Homo sapiens: one gene and its partner. Each later gene encodes a partner of the first gene's protein in a complex. Each region holds a gene or a part of one and is shown on either strand. Other genes may lie near its edges. A codon is read from its position in the direction of its gene.

Region 1 (11,551 bases):
TAAGAACACATCAGAATGGCCGGGTCTGGTGGCTCACGCCTGTAATCCCAACACTTTGGGAGGCCGAGGCGGGTGGATCACAAGGTCAGGAGTTCAAGACCAGCCTGGCCAAGATGGTGAAACCTCATCTCTACTAAAAATACAAAAATCAGCCAGGCACGGTGGCAGGCGCCTGTAATCTCCGCTACTCGGGAGGCTGAACCAGGAGAATCACTTGAACCCTGGAGGCGGAGGTTGCAGTGAGCCGAGATCACGCCATTACACTCCAGTCTGGGCAACAGAGTGAGACTCCTTCTGAAAAACAAACAAACAAAAACTGCCTTTCTATAACAGAGAATGAACAGCCACAATCAGCTTCCTGAAAGTCAATATTTTCAATTACAAATTTCGCTGTCAACAGTCACCAAAATCACTAACTTTGCACACAGTGTCACTAAGCCTCAATCATCTCATACTTTAAAGTCTTCTAAATTTGGGGAGGAGGGTGGAAAAGATTAAAATAAAAATAAAGTCTCCTAAACTTGATTTCTGTGGCCAGTTTCAACCCATTTCAGGCACTTCCTCCTTCCTTCCAAACAGTTATTATCCAAAAAGATATAACCAATCACATCACTTCCCAGATTAAGAACTTTTCAAACATCTTATCGTACTTCTCCAGACTCAACTCCTACCAGCCCATGGTCCAACCACAATGAACTTCTATCCATGCCATTCTTTTCAGCAAACACCTATTCATCCTTCAAGACTCTGCTAAGTTTCCTTGAAGCTGATGTTATAATGGCTTGTCTTGGATTTTAATCCTGGCCCCACCACTTATACAATTGAGAAGCTTATCATCAATAAAACTGTAATATTTCAATTTTGAAGATTAAATATACAAACATAAAATCCACTCAATACTTTAACTTTCCCTTTTTTCAGTTCTCCCAAGTAGAACTGGTTGGTTCTTTATTCTCACTGCAGTCTGCTCACCCCTCTAGTATACAATTAGTACATTATAACTCACCTGTTAAAATGTTTGTCTTCCCAGTTAAGCTCAGTTTCCAGGAGATAATTATGTCTTATTTCTGTATATGGAGCACAATGCTTGCCACAGAGCAGATGCTTAAAACGTGTTTCCTAAATGAATTTGAGCTGCTCTCTGAAACCCCAGACTTTAGCTGAGAGCAAATTCTCTAATTTGCATCCTTCTTTTTGCAAAAGGGGAAAGGGAGGGAGGGGGAAGGAATGATAAGAAAAATGCCTATGTCACTATCGCTTCTATTTTTCTCTTTAATCAGTTGGGTATTCTATTGGAGGGTTTTCCCTCTTCTCTAAGCACTCCAGCAATACTAAATGTCTGTCAAAACTACATCCAGTTTATTTCTCCCATCTCCCTTGTCCTCAAATCTGATTAACTGCTTTATACTGTTCATCCTACCATAATTTATTTTTCAACCTCTCTTCCTCACTTATGCCACTCATTTAAATGCTCATTAATTTTGTCTAAAGTCTTATTATAGCCTGGCCAATAAGCCTGCCTCCCTCAATTGTTATCTTGCTGCCAGATTCATCTTCATGTAACTTCACTGCTCCAAAACTTTCAATGACTTACAATTATCTACAAATCAGGTGCCCCAGAACTTGGCCCCAAACCACGTTGCCATAATTTCCGGCTGCCCCTCTTCATGAATTCCACAATACAACCAAACTGTAACACTCGAAACTCCCTCCACACTACCCACTATTAAATACTTTCCTACCTCCACTCCTTTGCCTGGCAAGTCCAACCTTCAGCCCTTCTGTGCCTGCCTGAATGCAACCTTTCCTTCAAATCCCCATTTGGCTGTGGTTGCCTCTATGAAGTCTTCCCCTAATTTCCTACAAATCTCTCCCCTCCTGTACTGACACTGCAGCTATTAGTCCTTAATCTTTATTTCTTGTCTCTTTCTTCTTTTTTTTCTGGGATGGAGTTTTGCTCTCAAAGGCTGAGTGCAGTGGCACGATCTTGGCTCACTGCAATCTCCGCCTCCCAGGTTTAAGCGATTCTCCTGCCTCAGCCTCCCGAGTAGCTGGGATTACAGGCGCCTGCCACTATGCCCAGCTAATTTTTGTATTTTTAGTAGAGACAGGGTTTCACCATGTTGGCCAGGCTGGTCTTGAACTCCTGACCTCAGCTGATCCACCCACCTTGGCCTCCCAAAGTGCTTGGATTACAGGTGTGAGCCACCGCGCCTGGCCTATTTCTTGTCTCTTTCTTTCAGCATTCATCATCTTCCCTGTTAAGTTATATGTAGACAGACAGGGCCTCTGCCAATTTATATGCCTCCACAGAACTTAGCCGAGGACCTTATACATCAGAGATACTAGGTAAAAATTGTTTATAGTCTTTGTAAATTGTTGATTATGATGTGGACTCTATTAACAATGTCATCATACCTTCTTACCAAGCTGGCTAACAAAATCCACTACTTTTACAAAATGGTAATGTTAGAAATTAAAAGGTACAGTCTAATCCCATCTCCACTACTAGTTTCTTCAATTAAGCATAAGAATGTTTTTACATTAAGTGGAAGCCTGTACTGTTCTGGAGAGTGTTGACAAGGTAGAAAGGCACCTTTCAGTAGTTTCCACTTTAGTCCTAGTTCACTGACCCTCTGAGGTCACAGGGAATAGATCTTATCCTTTACTCACATAGGTTTCCAAATTTAAAGAGTTGTTTCACAGGTAATCATTATATAAAAATATAATAGGAATCTATATTCTGAGCATCTTGTTAAAATAAATGTATCAGTTTTTCTCACATCCTTAGTTTTGTTTTTTATTTTTGAGATGGGGTCTCGCACTGTTGCCCGGGTGGGAGTGCAATGGCGTGATCTCGGCTCACTGCAACCTCTGCCTCCCGGGTTCAAGTGATTCTCCTGCCTCAGCCTCCCAAGTAGCTGGGATTACAGGTGCCTGCCACCAGGCCTGGCTAAGTTTTTGTATTTTTAGTAGAGACGGGGTTTCACTATGTTGGCCAGGCTGGTCTTGAACTCCTGACCTCATGATCTGCCTGCCTCAGCCTCCCAAAGTGCTGGGATTACAAGTGTGAGCCACTGCGCCCGGCCCCTTAGTTTTAATTCATAATTACAGAAAAATAAAACAAGATTTCTAGAGACTGACATTTTCACTAAGCTTCCAAACTTCTCACCAACTAAGCAATTCTCTATGTGGTGAAATCTACCCAGTTCACCTCGTTCCAGGTACACCCCAAGAATCTTTCTGGCTTTTCTCTCTTTCTCCCTTAGAAAAGCTCATATACTGTCTCTCTCTGCTGCCAAATGCAGCATACTTGGATTCTTCCATTTGGAGAAACTCAAATTCACTGTATTGCAAGTCAGCCTATTATCTATCTCCAAATCTAATCTTTCTCAAAGTCATCATTTTTAGTGGTGTTCTGGTTTTTCAACTCTCTCAATTGTGAAATATCTTTTTCCTTTTTCACCATTAAACATTGTATCTTTTCTTTGATTAACCCTCTTTATTCACTTTTATACTGCTTACACTCTCAGCAAGGCACTTATTTACCTCAAACCTAGATTTCTGAAAGTGGCCTTCAAATTTGTGGGTTCTATTTCCTCCAAATAATGCAGCATATTAATCTCTTGTCACTTTATTTTCCTGCTCAAAAAATGATTAGGTTGGTGCAAAAGTAACTGCAGTTTTTGCCATTACTTTTAATGGCAAAAAGATATCATTTCTCCTTCTACGGTACTTAAATGTCAGATGTGGTCTCTACTGCAGTCACAGAATGTAAGGTCCACGTGAACAAGGATCTTCTGACTTATTCACTACTCAGGCCCCAGCACCTAAAACATCACTAGGCACACAGTAAGTTCTGAGAAATATTTACTGAAAAAATATTTACTTGCCCTTTTACTGTCCTGTATCTTCAGATTTTTCTGAAAGTTTCCAAGATGCGAATACATACAGCATTTACAATTCACAAATATTTCTATATTGAAAATGAAGAAAAACACTCGAAAGTGAAAAAGATCTTGATTAAACCTAATACATATATCATGATTCAAACCAAGAAGACTTTCCTCACTGTCCTACCACCCAACACTCCAACCTCACCTTCTCCCACTCCTTAACGGGCCACCCTCCCTATACGATACACCAGACAAACTCAAAGCTGCTCACTTCTTCACAGACAGCCATCAAGCTTTTTCTTACATAGTCGTGCGCTTTGTCTGGGACGCCGTTCCCCACCTTCTCATCCAGTCCTTGCCATCCTTAACTCATAATCTTCCAAGAAGCCCTCCTTTGACAGCTAGACTAGCATACACCTTGAGGACCTTCAGGCTGAAATAACCTAGTTGCACATCCTGTTACAAATGGACTGTAAGCTTCTTCAGGCAGAGTAGCCAGACACAAATCACCCAGGTGGGGAAACTCTGTTAATTCATGCCTCCTCCTCCCCAGGACTCCTCTCCCCCAGTACAAACTCACCAAATGAAAAGGATGGGGAAGAAAGCTTACCAAATGTCAAACTGTTATTACAATGCATAAAAGTATAGTGAGTAAAAGTCATTCTGTGGCTACCAACACTTGCCTCCACAATAAAGGACTCGAAGTGGGTAATCGGCATCTAACTTGGCACTGTTCCTTGGGTCTCCTTTGCAGTCAGCCCCGCTGGATTCAGAAATGTCAGCAGCCATTTCACAAACCTGTAAGCAAGGAAAATAACACACCCTCACTATTTTAGAATCAAGACCCCAGAAGAGCAGTGTTCCTCTCAACAGAAACCTCCCCACCCCAAAGCTGTTTCAAGTCTGTTGTTGAGTGGGGGATACAAGCTGCATTCGATTCATAAAATATGAGCAATCCCAGGCACAACATCTCCTTGCTCCACAGGTCTACAGGGAAGCAAGCAGCAAATGGACCATGAAGGATGGGGCAGAGGGACTCACTAGAGAAAAACAGGAAGCAATGGGGAAGGAAAGATGGGGTGAGTACCCACGGCAGACACGGAGCAAAAAGGTCTGAGGGTGATCTGGGAGGGATGCAAACTGCAGTGAGAGAAGGGCTACAAAGGCGCCGAATGGAGAGAGGCTGGAAGTGCCTAGGAACAAGGGGTGGGTCATCGGAGAAGCCCGGGGTGCAGGGTGTGGGGGCAACTAAACGCCATGAGAGGGGCCTGGGGAGTCTAAAAAGGGCATGGGAGGGGGCGGGGTAACCAGAGCGTAAGAAGGATGAGGAGAGAAAACGAGCGCAGAATGTAAGAGCACTGAGGGGACAAGGGCGACCAGGTCTGAGGCGAAGGAGCAACCCCGGGGACGCCAGAAGGGGCCCTTGTGGGCGGGGGTGTGGAGAGGCCCGGCCCGGCCCCCTTCCGCCAGGCAGCATCTCAGCTTCCCCCACACTCTCTACGAGCTTCTCGGGAGCGGGAGAAGCACTTGGGGTCGTTACCCAGGCGGTCGCACAGGCCCCGCCGGCTCCGCTCCCGCCGCTATCGCCAGCTGAACCAACACATGCAACTCGTCTCCCCGGCCAGGGCCGCCCGAGCGCCCGACCGCCAGCAGCGCTCCCGCGAGACAATGAGCCTTTATCGCGAGATTCCGGCCGCCGCTGGGCGGATGTCGCGAGAAGCCGGAAGACGGGGGCGGAGAAAAATTGCGGAGCGTGCGCCTTGCCCTCCGGTGGGGGGCGTGGCCAAGAGGCCGAGAGGCGGGCCGCCGGCAGGCGGTGCTCGTCACCCGTTGGAGAGGATGAATCCTCGAGATGGGCGTGCCGAAGGGAACGTGACTTGCAGACGCAGAGAGCGCACCTGAGTCACAAATGACTCCCTATTAATGAGTCCGAGGATCATCGCCTCGGTGTCTGCGGTGCATCCTGGAGTCCTGACTAACCTCCAGCTACTGCATAAATCACTCCCGTGCGGGGAGATTGCAGCCGGATAGAGCGTTTGGTCGCATTTTAACACCATGCACTGAATTAAAGGAAGGTGTTCTCCCTCCCTCCCTCCCTCCCTTCCTTCTTTCCTTCCTCTCTTCTTTTCTCTCTCTCTTCGCCGGATGGAGCGTTTGGTTGCGTTTTAACACCATACACTAAATTAAAGGAATTCTTTTTTCTTTCTTTTCTGTTCTTTCTTTTCTTTCTTCTTTCTCTTCTTTCTGTCTCTTTCTTCCCCTTCCCTCCCTCCCTCCCTTCCTTCCTTCTTTCCTTCCTTCCTCCCTCCCTTCCTTCCTTCCTCCCTCCCTTCCTTCATCCTTTTCTTTATGTTTTGACAGGGTCTCACTCTGTCACCTAGGCTGGATGGAGTGCAGTTGCACAAACACGGTTCACTGCAGCCTCGACCTCCCAAGTAGTTGGGAATACAGGCGCGCGTTACCACACCCAGCTAATTTTTAATTTGTTTATAGAGGTGGGGGAATCTCCCTATGCTGTCCAGGCTGGTCTCGAACTCCCGGACTCAAGGGATCCTCCCGCCTCCGCCTCCCAAAGTGCTGGGATTACAGGCGTGAGCCACCGCGCCCGGCCTACAATTTTTTTTAATGAAAAAAAGAAAAATGTAAGAGTATGGGAATATATGGGGAAAAGAAAGATCAGATTGTTACTGTGTCTGTGTAGAAAGAAGTAGACATAAGAGACTCCATTTTGTTCTGTGCTAAGAAAAATTCTTCTGCCTTGAGATGCTGTTAATCTGTAACCCTACCACCAACCCTGTGCTTCCTGAGACCTGTGCTGTGTCAACTGAGGGTTAAATGGATTAAGGGCTGTGCAGGATGTGCTTTGTTAAACAAATGCTTGAAGGCAGCATGCGCCTTAAGAATCATCACCACTCCCTAATCTCAAGTACCCAGAGACACAATACACTGCAGAAGGCCGCAGGGACCTCTTCCTAGGAAAGCCAGGTATTGTCCAAGGTTTCTCCTCATGTGATAGTCTGAAATATGGCCTCGTGGGAAGGGAAAGACCTGACCATTCCACAGCCCGACACCTGTAAAGGGTCTGTGCTCAGGAGGATTAGTAAAAGAGGAAGGAACACCTCTGTGCAGTTGAGATAAGAGGAAGGCATCTGTCTCCTGCTCGTCCCTGGGCAATGGAATGTCTCGGTGTAAAGCCCGATTGTATATTCCATCTACTGAGATAGGGGAAAACCGCCTTAGGGCTGGAGGTGGGACATACTGGCAGCAATACTGCTCTTTAAGGCATTGAGATGTTTATGTATATGCACATCAAAAGCACAGCACTTTTTTCTTTACCATGTTTATGATGCAGAGACATTTGTTCACATGTTTTCCTGCTGACCTTCTCTCTACTATTATACCCTATTATCCTGGCACATCCCCCTGTCCGGGAAATGCCTGCTAATGATCAATAAATACTAAGGGAACTTAGAGGCCGGTGCGGGCACGGGTCCTCCGTATGCTGAACGCCGGTCCCCTGGGCCCATTTTTCTTTCTCTACAATTTGTCTCTGTGTCTCTTTCTTTTCCAAGCCTCTCGTTCCACCTGACGAGAAATGCCCACAGGCGTGGAGGGGCAACCCACCCCTTCAGGAATAGATCTTGGTTTCAAGAATAGTTGGATCCTGCAGATAAAACAACGTATTCTAGAACCTTTCTCTCACTCTTGCTCTCAGAGAATTCTAAAACAAATGTGAGAAGTGTGTATGTTTGGTGATTTTGGGTAAACACATGGGAGTTTCTTCATACTATTCTTGTAGATTTTCTGTACATTTGAAATTATGTCAAATTTACAAGTTTTTTTTTTTTTTTTTTTTTTTTTTTGAGACAGAGTCTCGCTCTGTTGCCCAGGCTGGAGTGCAGTGGCACGATCTCGGCTCACTGCAAGCTCCGCCTCCCGGGTTCACGCCATTCTCCTGCCTCAGCCTCCCGAGTAGCTGGGACTACAGGCGCCTGCCACCACGCCGGGCTAATTTTTTGTATTTTTATTAGAGACGGGGTTTCACCGTGTTAGCCAGGATGGTCTCGATCTCCTGACCTCGTGATCCGGCCGCCTTGGCCTCCCAAAGTGCTGGGATTACAGTTGTGAGCCACCGCGCCCGGCTTACAAGTTTTTTTTTTTTAAGGTTGCTATCTCTTTTCATCTGTTGGCTCTATCCCTATGTTTTCTTCCTACTGCTTACTTACGTTATTTTCTATTAGTTTAACCATCCCAGAAGAAAGAGATATTTATCTTTTCCAACAGTTCCAGGGAACAACTCAGGTGAATGTCTCATTAGCATTTTGAGTCATGTGCTCATCCCTGGGCCAGTCACAGTGGCCACAGGGATGGAATGATCTGATTGGCCAGACCTGGTCACATGCCTATTTTTAGAGGCAAGGGGTGGAACCAAATCCCCAATCCTCCAAACCTCGGAGATGGATGGAGAGGGCGGAATCTGTTGCCCAAGGAAAATCAGGATGCTAATGCCCAAGTAGAGTGCCTGGATGCTGGGAAGACAAAAACAACACATAAATAGGCCATCATCTGCACTCTTGATCCCAGAAGCCCTGCTCAAAGGGAGAAGGATTAGGGGACTGAGATGAAGAGGGAGGAGCGGCACCACAGCAGTTAATAAAAAGCAACCTGTTCTGCTTCTCCAAAAAGTAGACGTTTAATAAGGTCATTTGCTCTTGCAGCACAGGACTGACAAGGGACACAACCAGTTCTGTCACAAGAGGCCCATAAACATTCAATGTAGAGGAGGACTAATTTTAAAAGATGATACAATTTTATCGGGATGAGATAAGCACTTTGTTAAGTCAGGCAGCAAAACCTGTCTTTGCTTAGTCAAACCAAGGACCCCCTCATATGAGGGACCCAGAGTATCAGAAGTATCAGCATAAACGCATCTCACTGGTTGAAGCTGGGATGACCCGCCACAGGTCGATTCTCAGTGGACTAAAAGCACTGGCAGAGGATCAGCTTGACTCTAATTCTGTGCTCCCAGACACTCTGAGAGTCTTACTACAATGCATTTTAGTCTTTTATTGTAAAAATATTACATGCTTCTTGCAAAATATTCAAACCATACAGAAGCATATACAGTAAAAAATGAAGGTTTCTCTCTCCCCAGAGTACTGTGACAGTTTGGTCATATAATTATAATAATAATAGTAATAGGGCGGGCGCGGTGGCTGAAGCCTGTAATCCCAGCACCATGGGAGGCCGAGGCAGGCGGATCACAAGGTCGGGAGATCCAGACCATCCTGGCTAACACGGTGAAACCCCGTCTCTAATAAAAATACAAAAAATGAGCCGGGCGTAGTGGCGGGCGCCTGTAGTCCCAGCTACTCGGGAGGCTGAGGCAGGAGAACGGCATGAACCAGGGAGGCGGAGCTTGCAGTGAGCCGAGATCACGCCACTGCACTCCAGCCTGGGCGACAGAGCAAGACTCCGTCTCAAAAAATAAAAATAAAAATAAAAAAATAATAATAATAGTAGCTACAACTTACATAGCACCTCCTCTGTGTTATACACTGTTATAAGCACTTTACACAGATTAACTCATTTTTCCTTCATATTAGAGTGATGTAATATTGTTCCTGTTTTACACAGGAGGAAACAAAGAGGTGAAATAGCTTGCCTAAGATCTCACAGCTACTCAGCGAGAGAATTAACTTTAAACCAGGCAGCTTAACTCCAGAGTACAAATTTTAAAATGTATTCCAGATTTTAAAATGTATATATAATTTTTAAAATTGAGTTGCAATTCACATAACACAATAGCACAATAACACAAAATTAACCATTTAAAGTGAGCAATTCAATGACATTTAGTATCTCCATCTGGTGTGCAAACACCACCTCTATCTACTTCCAAAACATTTCCATCACCCCAAAAGCAAACCCCAAAATCATTAAGCAGTCATTCCTCATTCTCCCCTGGCAAACGCTAACCTGAGTCCTGTCTTTATGATCTATCTATTCTGGGTATTTTATATAAATGAAATCATACTGTATGTGACCTTTTGTGTCTGGCTTCTTTTACTTACAATAATAATTTTTTTTTTTGAGACACAGTTTCGCTCATGTTGTCCAGGCTGGATTACAATGGCGTGATCTCAGCTCACTGCAACCTCTGCCTCCCAGGTTCAAGTGACTCTCCTGCCTCAGTCTCCCAAGTAGTTAGAATTACAGGTGCCCGCCACCACAACCGGCTAATTTTTTGTATTTTTAGTAGAGACAGGGTTTCACCACGTTGGGCAGGCTGGTCTCAAACTCCTGGCCTCAGGTGATCCACCCGCCTCAGCCTCTCAAAGTGCTGGGATTACAGGTGTGGGCCAACGTGCCCAACCAGAATAATGATTTTGAGACTGATACACTTTGTAGCATGACGCATCCTTTTTATAAAAGGATTCATTAAACCATTAAAAGCACTTCATCCCTTCAGCATTTTAATGGCTGAATAATATTTTCCATTGTATTTATATACCACAAATGTGTTCATCCATTCATTCACAGGTGACCATTTGTCTTGTTTCTACTTGTCCTAGTCAAGATCCTCCAGAGAAACAGGACCATAGAATTTTCTGTTTCTATAAAGACATTTATTTTGAGGAACTGATTCACACAATCATGGAGGATGGCAAGTCCCAAATCTGAAGGGTAGGCCAGCAGGCTGGACGCCCTGGGAAGAACTGATGTTGCTGGCAGAATTCTTTCTTGCTCAGACGAGCTCAGTCTTTGTTCTTCTAAGGCCTTCAACTGATCAGGTGAGGCACACCCACACTGTGGAGTGCAACCTACTTTACTCAAAGGCCACACATTTAAATGTTAATCTCATCTAAAACACACCCTCATCTAGAATAGTATTCAATCAAATATCTGGGCACCATGGCCCAGCCAAGTTAACACATAAACTAAACCAACACATCACCTTTTGGCTATAGGAAGACTGCTGTTATGAATATCCATGTACGAGTATTTGAGTCTCTGTTTTCAGTTCTCTTGGGTGTATACCTAGGAGTGGAATTGCTGAGTCGTGTGGCAATTCTATGTTGAACTTTTTGAGGAACTGCCAGACTGTTTCCCACAGCAAATGAACTTTTTATTCTCCCACCAACAACGTACAAGGAAATAAAAAACATCATATTTTAATTTATAAAAATCGAATTATACCACACAAGCTGCAAGGTGGTAGTTCGTTTTTATTCACTTAAGGACATATCTTGGACATCTTTCTGGGTTAGTACATTTAATTCTGCATCTCATAGCAGAAATGCTTAGAACAGGGCCTTTCCAAAGGCAAATGTTATACAAGTGAATGCTATTATTCTTTTTAATAAGTATAGCTTCTTTTTTTTTGAGACGGAGTTTCGCTCTCATCGCCCAGGCTGGAGTGCAGTGGCACGATATCGGCTCACTGCAACCTCTGCCTCCTGGGTTCAAGCAATTCTCCAGCCTCAGCCTCCAAAGTAGGTGGAATTACAGGTGCTTGCCGCCACGCCCGGCTATTTTTTGTATTTTTAGTAGAGACAGGGTTTCGCCATGTTGGCCAGGCTGGTCTCGAACTCCTGACCTCAGGTGATCCACCTGCCTTGGTATCCCAAAGTGCTGGGATTACAGGCATGAGC
Region 2 (11,004 bases), on another chromosome or scaffold:
TGACAGATACCCTAATTACCCTGATTTGATCATTACACGCTGTATAAAGGTATCAAATATCACATGTACCCCTAAAATATGTACAACTATTATAAATATATATAGGTGGTGGGGGATACAGGCACCACAACAGCAGACAATGTACAGCTATGACGTATCAATTTTTAAAAACTATGTAACAGAGAGCCCAATTTTAAAAAAAAATGCATTTACACACATCACAGGAAATACCTGGACGGAAGGACACTTAGTCAATGCTTTCCCATATATAGACTTTTCTCTATTAGGCAAATAGATACAAATATAAAAGATGAAAATGCTCACAATGCTTATCACAGTTTGTAAATACATATTTGCGTAATTATCTAATTGTTGTTTATTCTCCAAACTAGACTATTAGTTTCTTAAGGACAGAGACAATGTCTTTGCTTCCCATTGTATTCTCAGCACCTAGCTGAATGCCTAGCACATAGTAAGTTCAATAAATATTTGTCTTTTTTTTTTTTTTTTTTTTTTTGAGACTAAGTCTCGCTCTTGTTCCCCAGGCTAGAGTGCAATGGCGTGATCTCTGCTCACTGCAACCTCCGCCTCGCGGGTTGAAGTGATTCTCCTGCCTCAGCCTCCCGAGTAGCTGGGATTACAGGCACCTGTGACCACGCCCGGCTAACTTTTGTATGTTTAGTAGAGACGGGGTTTCACCATGTTGGCCAGGCTGGTCTCGAACTCCTGATCTCAGGTGATCCACCCGCCTTGGCCTCCCAAAGTGCTGGGATTACAGGCGTGAGCCTCCGTGCCCGGCAATAAATATTTGTTGAATGAATTAATAAATGATCTTTCTTGGGCTTTCTGGAATGCATGAGAGAATCTGCATTTTTCAGATTTACCACAAGATGGGCATTCATTTTAGTTTTACATCCATTATTACCTAGTACTAATAAATAATGAGTCAATTATCAGAAGTCACTCTAAACTCTTTTTGTGTCTTTCAGTATTCCCAAATGCATATTTCTGTTTTTCTCCCCCAGCAGTGTCTTATCTGATTAAATGCATATTTCTTACAAGACTTTACATTTGAATATTGCAATAGGAGTAAAATTTCAAAAAATAAAAATAAAAAAACCTTACATTTGTGAAGTAATCTTAGGGTTGGATAAAAAGGCCCTTCTCTTTGTCTAAAAAAGAGTAATTCTCCATTTACTGTAAGGATTTCTATATGTTCATGGCTGTAAGACAAATGTCACAAAGTACCAAGTTAGATATTTTCTTTCAAAAATTCACAATATAAAACACGCATATACAGTGATAAACTTTCTTAAAAAGTCAGTAAAAATCCTGGCCAAAAAATATTGTTTACATTGTTTTTCCTATCATGCAAGTCCAGTAGAGAAAAAAAGAAAAATATTACCTGCTACAACCAATTTTATTTCACATTTTATTAATTCCATTGTTAGGTAATTCAATAAAACAATTCTCTAAACAACAAACTGAAATAAATTAAATCCAACTCTGAACTAAAACATTTAACTCTTTACTAGAACAATCAATACACAAAGCCACATTTTTTCAGGGACATAGAAAATCTTTGAAAATACAAATATTGGAGTTTTAGAGTTATTCTGTGTCTACCCCATTATTAATCTATCAATAGTTAATCTGAAAATAATTCCATTTAGTATGAGTGCAATCTAATCATTAAATATTCAGCTATACCGAGCTTTACACAGACAAAAACAAAGACTTACCATCGGACTATTTTGACAGGATCTTTCTTAGGCATGATTTGATTAAGCCATGGTTCAATACCTGGAAATTGCTCTATCAATTGATTCTTAATACCCTTAATAACTGAAGTTTTCAACTGGATGCAGTTGGACACATTTTCTTTTTCATCAAATCTGCCAAGTAATTTTTGCAAGAAAAGAAAAGGCATTTCTAAGTAGAGGTATCAGAATACCTAAAGGTACTGTTCTAATTAGTCATTTATTCCCAACCAAGTATTTAGATACTTAATTATGAAATAAATTGTTCTTTTAAAAAAAAATACCATCTCCCTTTTACTCTGTCCAGCACAAAACCAATGTCTTAATACAATATTGAAATAAACTGTCAAGTATACAGCAATTAGCTGGGGTTAGGGGGAGGAATATGAGACATACTTTGCACCATAATCTGTAATTAGCTACACAAATGCCTTTCCTGGAAAATCTTATTCAATTCTACCCAGGAAGAAACACAGGCTCCCACCAATAATAAAACCTGAGATCAGAAAACAAAACCCTCAATTCTTGAGATACAAAAGACCAACCCAAGCATAACATAGAAAATCGGCCCCTGCTAGGCTATGTAATCTGCTGAGATTTTTTTTAAGTGATGATAATAATGATTTCTAAGATCCCTATTCGTTTTTGCTCAAAATTTCATGCACAAAACCCACCTTCCTTTGCCCATGTTCCCCCTTTGCTTTTTGCGTCTACCAAATCTGGAAGGCAAACCCACTAGTAGGTTCCCAAGGAATTTTTGTCTTCCTTACACTGAATAGCCTATGGGGCAATCGTTATTTTCAAGGCAAGGTTAATCTGGCAGCTAGGCAATAGGCATGACAGGCCGCTTGCTTCCTGTCACCCAGACTCCTTCACTCCCATGACCCAGGAAGTCAAGCCTTCCTTTATTCAGTTCATAACTAATAAACATATGGCAGTGAGCGCAGGGCTCCCCTCTCAGCTACAGAGAATATGCCTCTAAATCACAGTGCACGGATGTGATTGGTAGAACCCTAGGAATGGAGACAGAATTGGGGGAGGGGGCAAAAGAGAAAGAGGGGTAAGGAGAAAAAACAATGGGAGTGGAGGGACTGAAACCCAATTAAGGACTACGGATGGAAAGCTTAAAGAAGTGTTCAAGTTGGGAGTGAGAGCATAGTACTATAGAAAACCTTAGGGAGTCAGGATGGCAGGGGCGGGGGAGAGAGAAAGAGGATCTTAGCTCTCGCCCTCTTCCCCACCCCCACCCCACCGCCTTTGTGAGCAGCCGATGGAGGCCACAGCATGTCCTTACTTCTTGAACATGATCCAAGGTGAAGGGGGCGACGATAGGGAAGGGCCCGGAATGGGAAAGAAATTGAATTTGCAGGGGTCCGGCAGATCCCCTCACACGAGGAAGGCCGGCACTGACAGTCGGAGCTGTAGTCGTTATCCGGAAAACGAGAGCCAGCCGCGCTTTACGGCTCTCAGTCAAATCTGACTACTTCCGCTCCTCTGGACTCCACGTAGGCGCTTTTGCCGGCTCCTTTTAGGCAACCGGTTCCTCAGCAGTTGGAGGTAGCTGAAAGGGCGGGACTTGAGAGGGAAGAAGTGATAGAGCAATTGCAGGAAGAGAAGAATGGAGGGGGCGGAGAATCAATCAAAGTAGCATTTATGGCACTTGCGTCAGTTACGGGTTCCTCAAAGGGTCAAGATTCTTCCGTGCTTCGTTGCTACCTATCGTCAAAGTAAACGATTTTTTTAGAGGGAATGGTTTCTGTCCTGTCTGAGGCAACCGAATGGATTGGTGCTTACCTACCAGCATGAATCCAGGCAACCCTCATGGCTTCATGTTAAAGTGCTGGTAGGATTGCCAGGTTTAGCAAATGAAAATACAGGATGCCTATTTAAATTTGCATTTCAGGTAAACAATGAATATTTGTTTTAGTGTAAGTATACCTCATTAATATTTTGGATATACTTACACTAAAAATATACAGCGCTTGTTTAGCTGAATTTAATTGAGCATCCTGTTTTTTATCTTATAACCTTATTCACTGGCAACCGTACGATGCTCCCAAAGTTTTTTGCGGGTTTTTATTGAGACAGGGCCTCACTCTTGCCCAGGCTTGAATGCGGTGGTGCTATCATGGCTCACTTGCAGCCTCTACCTCCTTGGCTCAAGGGATCTTCCCACTTCAGCCTCCCAAGTAGCATGGACTACAGGCACACACCATCATGCCCGGTTAATTTTTTTATTTTTATTATTATTATTATTATTGTAGAGACGGGGTCTATGTTGCTCAGGCTGGTTGCAAAGTCCTGGGCTCAAGCAGTCCTCCCACCTTGGCATCCCAAAGTGCTGGGGTTACAAGCGTGAATGACTGTGCTCCCGTAGAATAATTCCCATAGAATTATTACAGAAGGTAATCTGATTTAAGAGATAATAGCTAAAGAGACATGTTTTACTTATGTAATTTTTTTAAAAATAAAGCTGATAGAGAAACAAAATTATGCCAATCAAGAGTTTCACTTTGTTTTTTGTTTTAGAGACAGCATCTCACTCTGTCACCTAGGCTGGAGTGCAGTGGCATGATCACGGTTCATTGGAGTTGCAACTTCCCAGGCTCAAGTGACCCTCCCGCCTCAGCCTCCGGAGTAGTTGGTACTACAGGCATGCACTACCACACCTGGCGAATTTTAATTTTTTGTAGAGACAGGCAGGGTCTCACTAAGTTGCCCAGACTGATCTTGAACTCCTGGCCTCGAGCAATTCCCCGAACTCAGCCTCCCGAAGTGTTGGGATTACAGCCATGAGCTACTGTGCCTGGCCTAATCAAGGGTTTTGATCAGCCAAGAAATCATGGAAAAATTTAAAAACCTGAAAAGGCCCTACGCAGGAGGTGGGGTGGGTAGGCACTGACATCCAAAACAAATACACCAGTCTCCCCAGGGAGTAAATACTCTAGTCCATATTGAGGAGACGGGCCATTAGAGCAATTATAGCAAACAGTACTATGCATTTAAATGATCCAACTAACACCTTGTCTTAATTCTATGGTATGAACAATATTCTGATTATAATTTGGCTTCCCATGAAGATCTGCCCACAGGGAAAGAATTAGCTACGTTCCAATCAAATCTGCATGAACAATTATGTTTGCATTTGTAAATTAATAAATTGGCATTCTGGTTTATACAACACTCTCTTGTGAACATCCTTAGTGAGAATCCACATTCCCAGCATCCATCAACTCTGCAACATTTAGAATATTGACATTATGAACATGTGAAACTGATGTCCAGACCCCAAGCTGTGGTGACTGCCACACTGGCAGGATTATTTTTTTTTAATTTTTATGGGTACCTAGTAGGTGTATAAATTTATGGGGTATATGAGATGTACAGGCATGCAATGTGAAATAAGCACATCATAGAAAACGGGGCGTCCATCCCCTCAAGTATTTATCCTTTGAGTTACAAACAATTCAATTATGCTCTTTAACTTATTTTAAAATATACAATTAGGTTATTATTGACTATAGTCACAGTACTAGTTCATTCTCACACTGCTAGAATACCTGAGTCTGTGTAATTTATAAAGTAAAGAAGTTTAATTGACTCACAGTTCTGCATGGCTGGAGAGGGCTCAGGAAACTTACAATCATGGCAGAAGGGGAAGCAAACACATCCTTCTTCACAAGGTGGCAGGAGAAAGAAGTGTGTGGAGCAAAGGGTGAAGAGCCCCTTATAAAACTATTAGATCTCGTGAGCACTCACTCACTATCACAAGAACAGCATGCAGAAAGCCACCCCCATGATCCAATCACCTCCCACCAGGTCTCTCCCCAGACATGTGGGGATTATGCAGATTACAATTCAAGATGAGATTTGGGGGGGACACATCCAAACCATGTAAGTCACCCTATTTTGCTATCACATAGAAGGTCTTAGTCATTCTTTCTGTTTTTAATACCTATTAGCCAACCCCACCTCCACTACCCAACCCCCCACTACCCAACCCCCCACTATCCTTCCCAGCACCTGGTAACCATCCTTCTATTCTGTGTGTCCATGAGTTCAATTGATTTGATTTTTAGATCCCACAAATAAGTGAGAACATGTGACGTTAGTCTTTCAGGGCCTGGGTTATTTCACTTAACATAGTCAACTCCAGTTCCATCCATGTGATTGCAAATGACAGGATCTCATTTTTTTATGGCTGAATAGTACTCCATTGTGTATCTGTACCACATTTTCTTTATCCAAACATCTGTTGATGGACACTTAGGTTACTTCCAAATCTTAGCTGTTGTAAACACCGCTGTAAGAAACATAGGAGTGCAGATATTTCTCTGATATACTCATTTCCTTTCTTTTTGGGTAGATACCCAGGAGTAGGATTGCTGGATCATATGGTAGCTCAATTTTTAGCTTTCTGAGGAACCTCCAAACTGTGCTCCATAGTGGTTGTACTAATTTACATTCCCACCAACAGTGTACAAGTGTTCCCTTTTGTCCACATCTTCACCAGCATTTGTTATTACCTGTCTTTGGATATAAGCCATTTTAACTGGGGTGAGATGATATCTTGTAGTTTTGATTTGCATTTCTCTCATGACCAATGATGCTGAGCAACTTTTCTTTTGCCTGTTTGCCATTTGTGTGTCATCTTTTGAGAAATGTCTATTCAAATATTTTGCCAATTTCTTGATTGTATTATTAGATTTTTTCCTATAGAGTTGTTTGAACTCCTTATATATTCTGGTTGTTAATCACTGGTCAGATGGGTAGTTTGCAAATATTTTCTCCCATTCCATGGGTTGTCTTTTCACTTTGGTGATTGTATCCTTTGCTGTGCAGAAGCTTTTTAACTTTATGCAATGCAGTTTGCCCATGTTTGCTTTGGTTGTCTGTACTTGTTGGGTATTGCTCAAGAAGTCGTTGCCCAGACCAATGTTGTGGAGATTTTCCCCAATGTTTTCTTGCAGTAGTTTCATGGTTTGAGGTCTTAGATTTAAGTCTTTAATCCATTTTGAATTGACTTTTTTATATGTCAAGAGAGAGTCTCGCTCTGTTGCCCAGGCTGGAGTGCAGTGGCGCGATCTAAGCTCCCTGCACCCTCTGCTTCCCGGGTTCAAGAAATTCTCCTGCCTCAGCCTCCTGAGTAGCTAGGATTACAGGCGTGTGCCACCATGCCCAGCTAATTTTTTTTTTGTATTTTTAATAGAGATGGTGTTTCACCATATTGGCCAGGCTGGTCTCAAACTCCTGACCTAGTGATCTGCCCACCTTGGACTCCCAATGTGCTCAGATTATAGGTGTGAGCCACCGTGCCCGGCCAGTGTATTTTACTTTTCATTATAGAGACCTTTCACTTCTTATAGTTCAGTCAATTCCTAGGTATTTAATTTTACATGTGGCTATTGTAAATGAGATTATTTTTTAAATTTCTTTTTCAGATTGTTCACTGTTGGCATATAGAAATGCTACTAATTTTTGCATTTTGATTGTGTATCCTACAATTCTAATGAATTTATCAGTTCTAATAGTTTTCTCATGGAGTCTAGTTTATTCTAAATATAAGATCATATCATCAACGAACAAGGATAATTTGACTTCTTCTTTTCCAAATTGGATGCCCTTTGTATCTCTCTCTTGTCTGACTGCTCTAACTAGCACTTTCAGAATAACAGTGATGACAGTGGGCATCCTGTCATGTTCTGGATCTTAGAGGAAAGGCTTTAAGTTTTTCCCCCTTCAGTATAATACTAGGTGCAGGTCTATCGTATATGACTTTTGTTATGTTAAGGTATGTTTTTTCTATCCCCGGATATTGAGGGTTTCTATCATGAGGAAATGTTGAATTTTATCAAATGCTTTTTCAGCATCAACTGAAATGAAAGGTTTTTATTTCAAACTGAAACTGAAGGTTTTTATCCTTCATTCTGTTGACAGGCTGTATCACATTGATTGGTTTGTGTATATTGAGCCATCCTTGAATCCCAGGGATAAATCCCAGTTGGTCATGATGAATGATCTTTCTAATGTATTGTTGAATTTAGTTTGCTAGTATTTTGTTGAGGATTTTTTTTTTCTTTGAGACGGAGTCTCACTCTGTCACCCTGGCTGGAGTGCAGTGGTGCGATCTCGGCTCACTGCAAGCTCTGCCTCCCAGGTTCATGCCATTCTCCTTCCTCAGCCTCCCGAGTAGCTGGGACCACAGGTGCATACCACCATGCCCAGCTAATTTTTTTGTATTTTTAGTAGAGACAGGGTTTCACCATGTTAGCCAGGATGGTCTCGATTTCCTGACCTTGTGATTCACCCACCTCAACCTGGGAAAGTGCTGGGATTACAGGCATGAGCTACCGTGCCCGGCCGAGGATTTTTGCATCAGTGGTCATCAGAGATATTGGCCTGAGACTGAGTCTTGCTCTGTCACCCAGGCTGGAGTGCAGTGACACGATCTCAGCTCACTGCAACCTCCGCCTCCCAGGATCGAGTGATTCTCCTGCCTCAGCCTCCCAAGTAGCTGGGATTACAGGCACGCGTCACCACGCCCAGCTTTTTTTTGTATTCTTAGTAGAGACAGGGTTTCACCATGTTGGTCAGGCTGGTCTTGAACTCCTGACCTCGTGATCTGCCCGCCTCTGCCTCCCAAAGTGCTGGGATTACAGGTGTGAGCCACCACGCCCGGCTGTGGTTTTCTTTTATTGTGTCTTTGTCTGGTTTTGGTATCAGAGTAATGCCAGTCTCATAGAGTGAATTTAGAAGTATTCCCTCCTCCTCTATTTTTTGGAATGGTTTGAGTAGGATCAGTATTAGTTCTTCTTTAAATGTTTGGTAGAATTCAGCAATGAAGCCTTTGGGTCCTGGGCTTTTCTTTACTGGGAGACTTTTTATTACAGCTTTGATCTCATTACTTGCTTTTGTGCTGTTCAGGTTTTGGATTTCTTCCTGATTCAATCTTAGTAGGCTGTGTGTGTCTAGGAATTTGGCCATTTCTTCCAGATTTTCCAATTCATTGGCATATAGTTGCTCATAGTAGCCTCTAATGATCCTTTGAATTTCTGTAGTATCAGTTTTAATACCTCCTTTTTCATTTCTGGTTTTATTTGGATCTTCTCTCTTTTTTTCTTAGTTAATCAGGCTAAATGTTTGTCAATTTTCTTTAACTTTTCAAAAAATATCTTTTTGTTTCATTGATCTTTTGTATTGTTCTCTTCATCTCAATTTCATTTATTTCTGCTCTGAACTTCACTATTTCTTTTCTTCTACTAATTTTAGGTTTGATTTGCTCTTGCTTTTCTAGTTCTTTAAGATGCATCATTAGATTATTTATTTGGAGTTTTTCTTCTTTTTTGGATGTAGGCACTTAGAGCTATAAACTTTCCTCTGAGTACTGCTTTTGCTGTATCTCATGGGATTTGATAGGTTGTGTTTCCATTATCATTTGTTTCCAGACATTTTTCAGTTTCCTTCTTAACTTCTTCACTGATCCAGTGGTCATTCAAGAGCATATTGTTTAATTTCCCTGTGTTTGTATAGTTTCCAAAATTCCCCTTGTTATTAATTTCTAGTCTTATTCCATTGTGGTCAAAGAAGATGCTTGATATTATTTCAATTTTTGAATTTTTTAAGACTTGTTTTGTAACCTAAGATATAGTCTATCCTTGAGAATTATCCATGTGCTCAGGAAAAGAATGTGTATTCTGCAGCTCTTAAATGACATGTTCTGTAAATATCTATTAGACCCATTTGGTCTACAGTGCAGATTAAGTTTGATGATTCTTTGTTGATTTTCTGTCTGAAAGGTCTGTCCAATGCTGAAAATGGGGTGTTGAGGTCTCCAGCTATTATTGTTTTGGGACCTATCTCTTTCTTTAGCTCTAATAATATTTGATTTATATGTCTGGGTGCTCCAGTGTTGGGTGCATATATATTTAGAATTGTTATATCTTCTTGCTGAATTGACCCCTTTGTCACTACACGGTGACCTTCTTTGTCTCTTCTTCTGGTTCTTATCTTGAAATCTATTTTGACTGATGTAAGTATGGCAAATCCTGCTCTTTTTTGGTTTCCATTAGCATGGAACATCTTTTTCCATTCCTTTATTTTCAGTCCATGTGTGTTTTTATAGATGAAGTGTGTTTCTTGTAGCAACAGATCAATGGGTCTTGTTTATTCATCCATTCAGCTACTCTATGTCTTTTGATTGGAGAATTTAGCCTATTTACATTCAATGTTATTATTGATAAGTAAGGACTTATTCCTGCCATTTTGTTATTTGTTCTCTGATTGTTTTGTGGTCTACTCTTCCTTGTTTCATTCCTGTATTCCTCTAGTGAAGGTGATTTTCTCTGGTGATATGACATAATGTCTTTCTATGTTTTTTTATCCATTGTATGTTCTTCAGTTTGAGGTTACCATGAGGCTTGCAAATAATAACTTATAACCCATTATTTTAACCTGATAACAAGTTGACACTATACACATAAAGGAACAAACAAGCAAAAAAAAAAAAAACTAATAAAAACTCTACACGTTAACTTCATCCCCACCGCTTTTTAACTTTTTATTGTTTCTATTTACCTCTTATTGTATTGACTATGTCTTGATGAGTTTTTGTAGTTGTTATTTTTGATTGGTTCATCATTTTGTCTTTCTACCTAGTATAAGAATAGTTTACACACCACAGTTACAGTGTTATAATATTCTGTGTTTTTCTGTGTACTATTACCAGTCAGTTTTGTACCTTCAGGTGATTATTGCTCATTAATGCCCTTTTCTTCCTGATTGAAGTACTCCCTTTAGCATTTCTTGTAGGACAGGTCTGGTGTTGATGAAATCCCTCAGCTTTTGTTTGCCTGGGAAAGTCTTTATTTCTCCTTCATGTTTGAAGGATATTTTCATCAAATATACTATTCTAGGGTTACAGTGTTTTTCCTTCAGCACTCTAAATATGTCACACCACTCTCCTAATCTGTAAGGTTTCCACTGCTGCCAGATGTATTGAAGCTCCATTCAATGTTATTTGTTTCTTTTATCTTGCTGTTTTTAGGATCCTTTCTTTATCCATGACCTTTGGGAGTTTGATTATTAAATGCCTTGAGGTAGTCTTCTTTGGGTTAAATCTGTTTGGTGTTCCACAACCTTCTTGTACTTGGGTATTGATATCTTTCTCTAGGTTTGGCAAGTTCTCTTGTTATCATCCCGCTAAATAAACTTTCTACCCCTATATCTTTCTCTACCTCCTCCTTAA

Evidence for each region.
Region 2: the proteins of DENR (region 1) and MCTS1 are in contact, whole or in part, in a crystal structure (PDB 5ONS), measured with the Homo sapiens proteins. Residues at the interface, in NP_003668.2 of Homo sapiens: Ala25 (codon at 4,613), Tyr27 (codon at 4,607), Pro28 (codon at 4,604), Leu29 (codon at 4,601), Val31 (codon at 4,595), Tyr33 (codon at 4,589), Cys37, Ser38, Leu39, Pro40, Glu42, Tyr43, Glu45, Tyr46, Met47; in NP_054779.1 of Homo sapiens: Trp39 (codon at 1,792), Gln42 (codon at 1,783), Arg83 (codon at 1,141), His86 (codon at 1,132), Lys87 (codon at 1,129), Tyr88, Pro89, Phe90, Lys99, Ile102, Lys103, Leu106, Ala136, Lys139, Gln140, His141, Ala142, Leu143, Leu170, Asn171, Trp175, Lys178.

What each region holds. Positions count from the first base shown.
Region 1 is NC_000012.12:122,746,836-122,758,386, reverse strand, and holds the start of DENR (density-regulated protein), read right to left. Parts: upstream 5,564-11,551; 5' UTR 5,437-5,563; intron 4,695-5,436; 5' UTR 4,686-4,694; coding exon 4,580-4,685; intron 1-4,579. UniProt on the Homo sapiens protein: Translation regulator forming a complex with MCTS1 to promote translation reinitiation.
Region 2 is NC_000023.11:120,596,298-120,607,301, reverse strand, and holds the start of MCTS1 (malignant T-cell-amplified sequence 1), read right to left. Parts: upstream 3,202-11,004; 5' UTR 3,066-3,201; coding exon 3,055-3,065; intron 2,604-3,054; exon of another isoform or gene 2,449-2,603; coding exon of another isoform or gene 2,435-2,448; intron 1,896-2,434; coding exon 1,743-1,895; intron 1,224-1,742; coding exon 1,126-1,223; intron 1-1,125. UniProt on the Homo sapiens protein: Translation regulator forming a complex with DENR to promote translation reinitiation.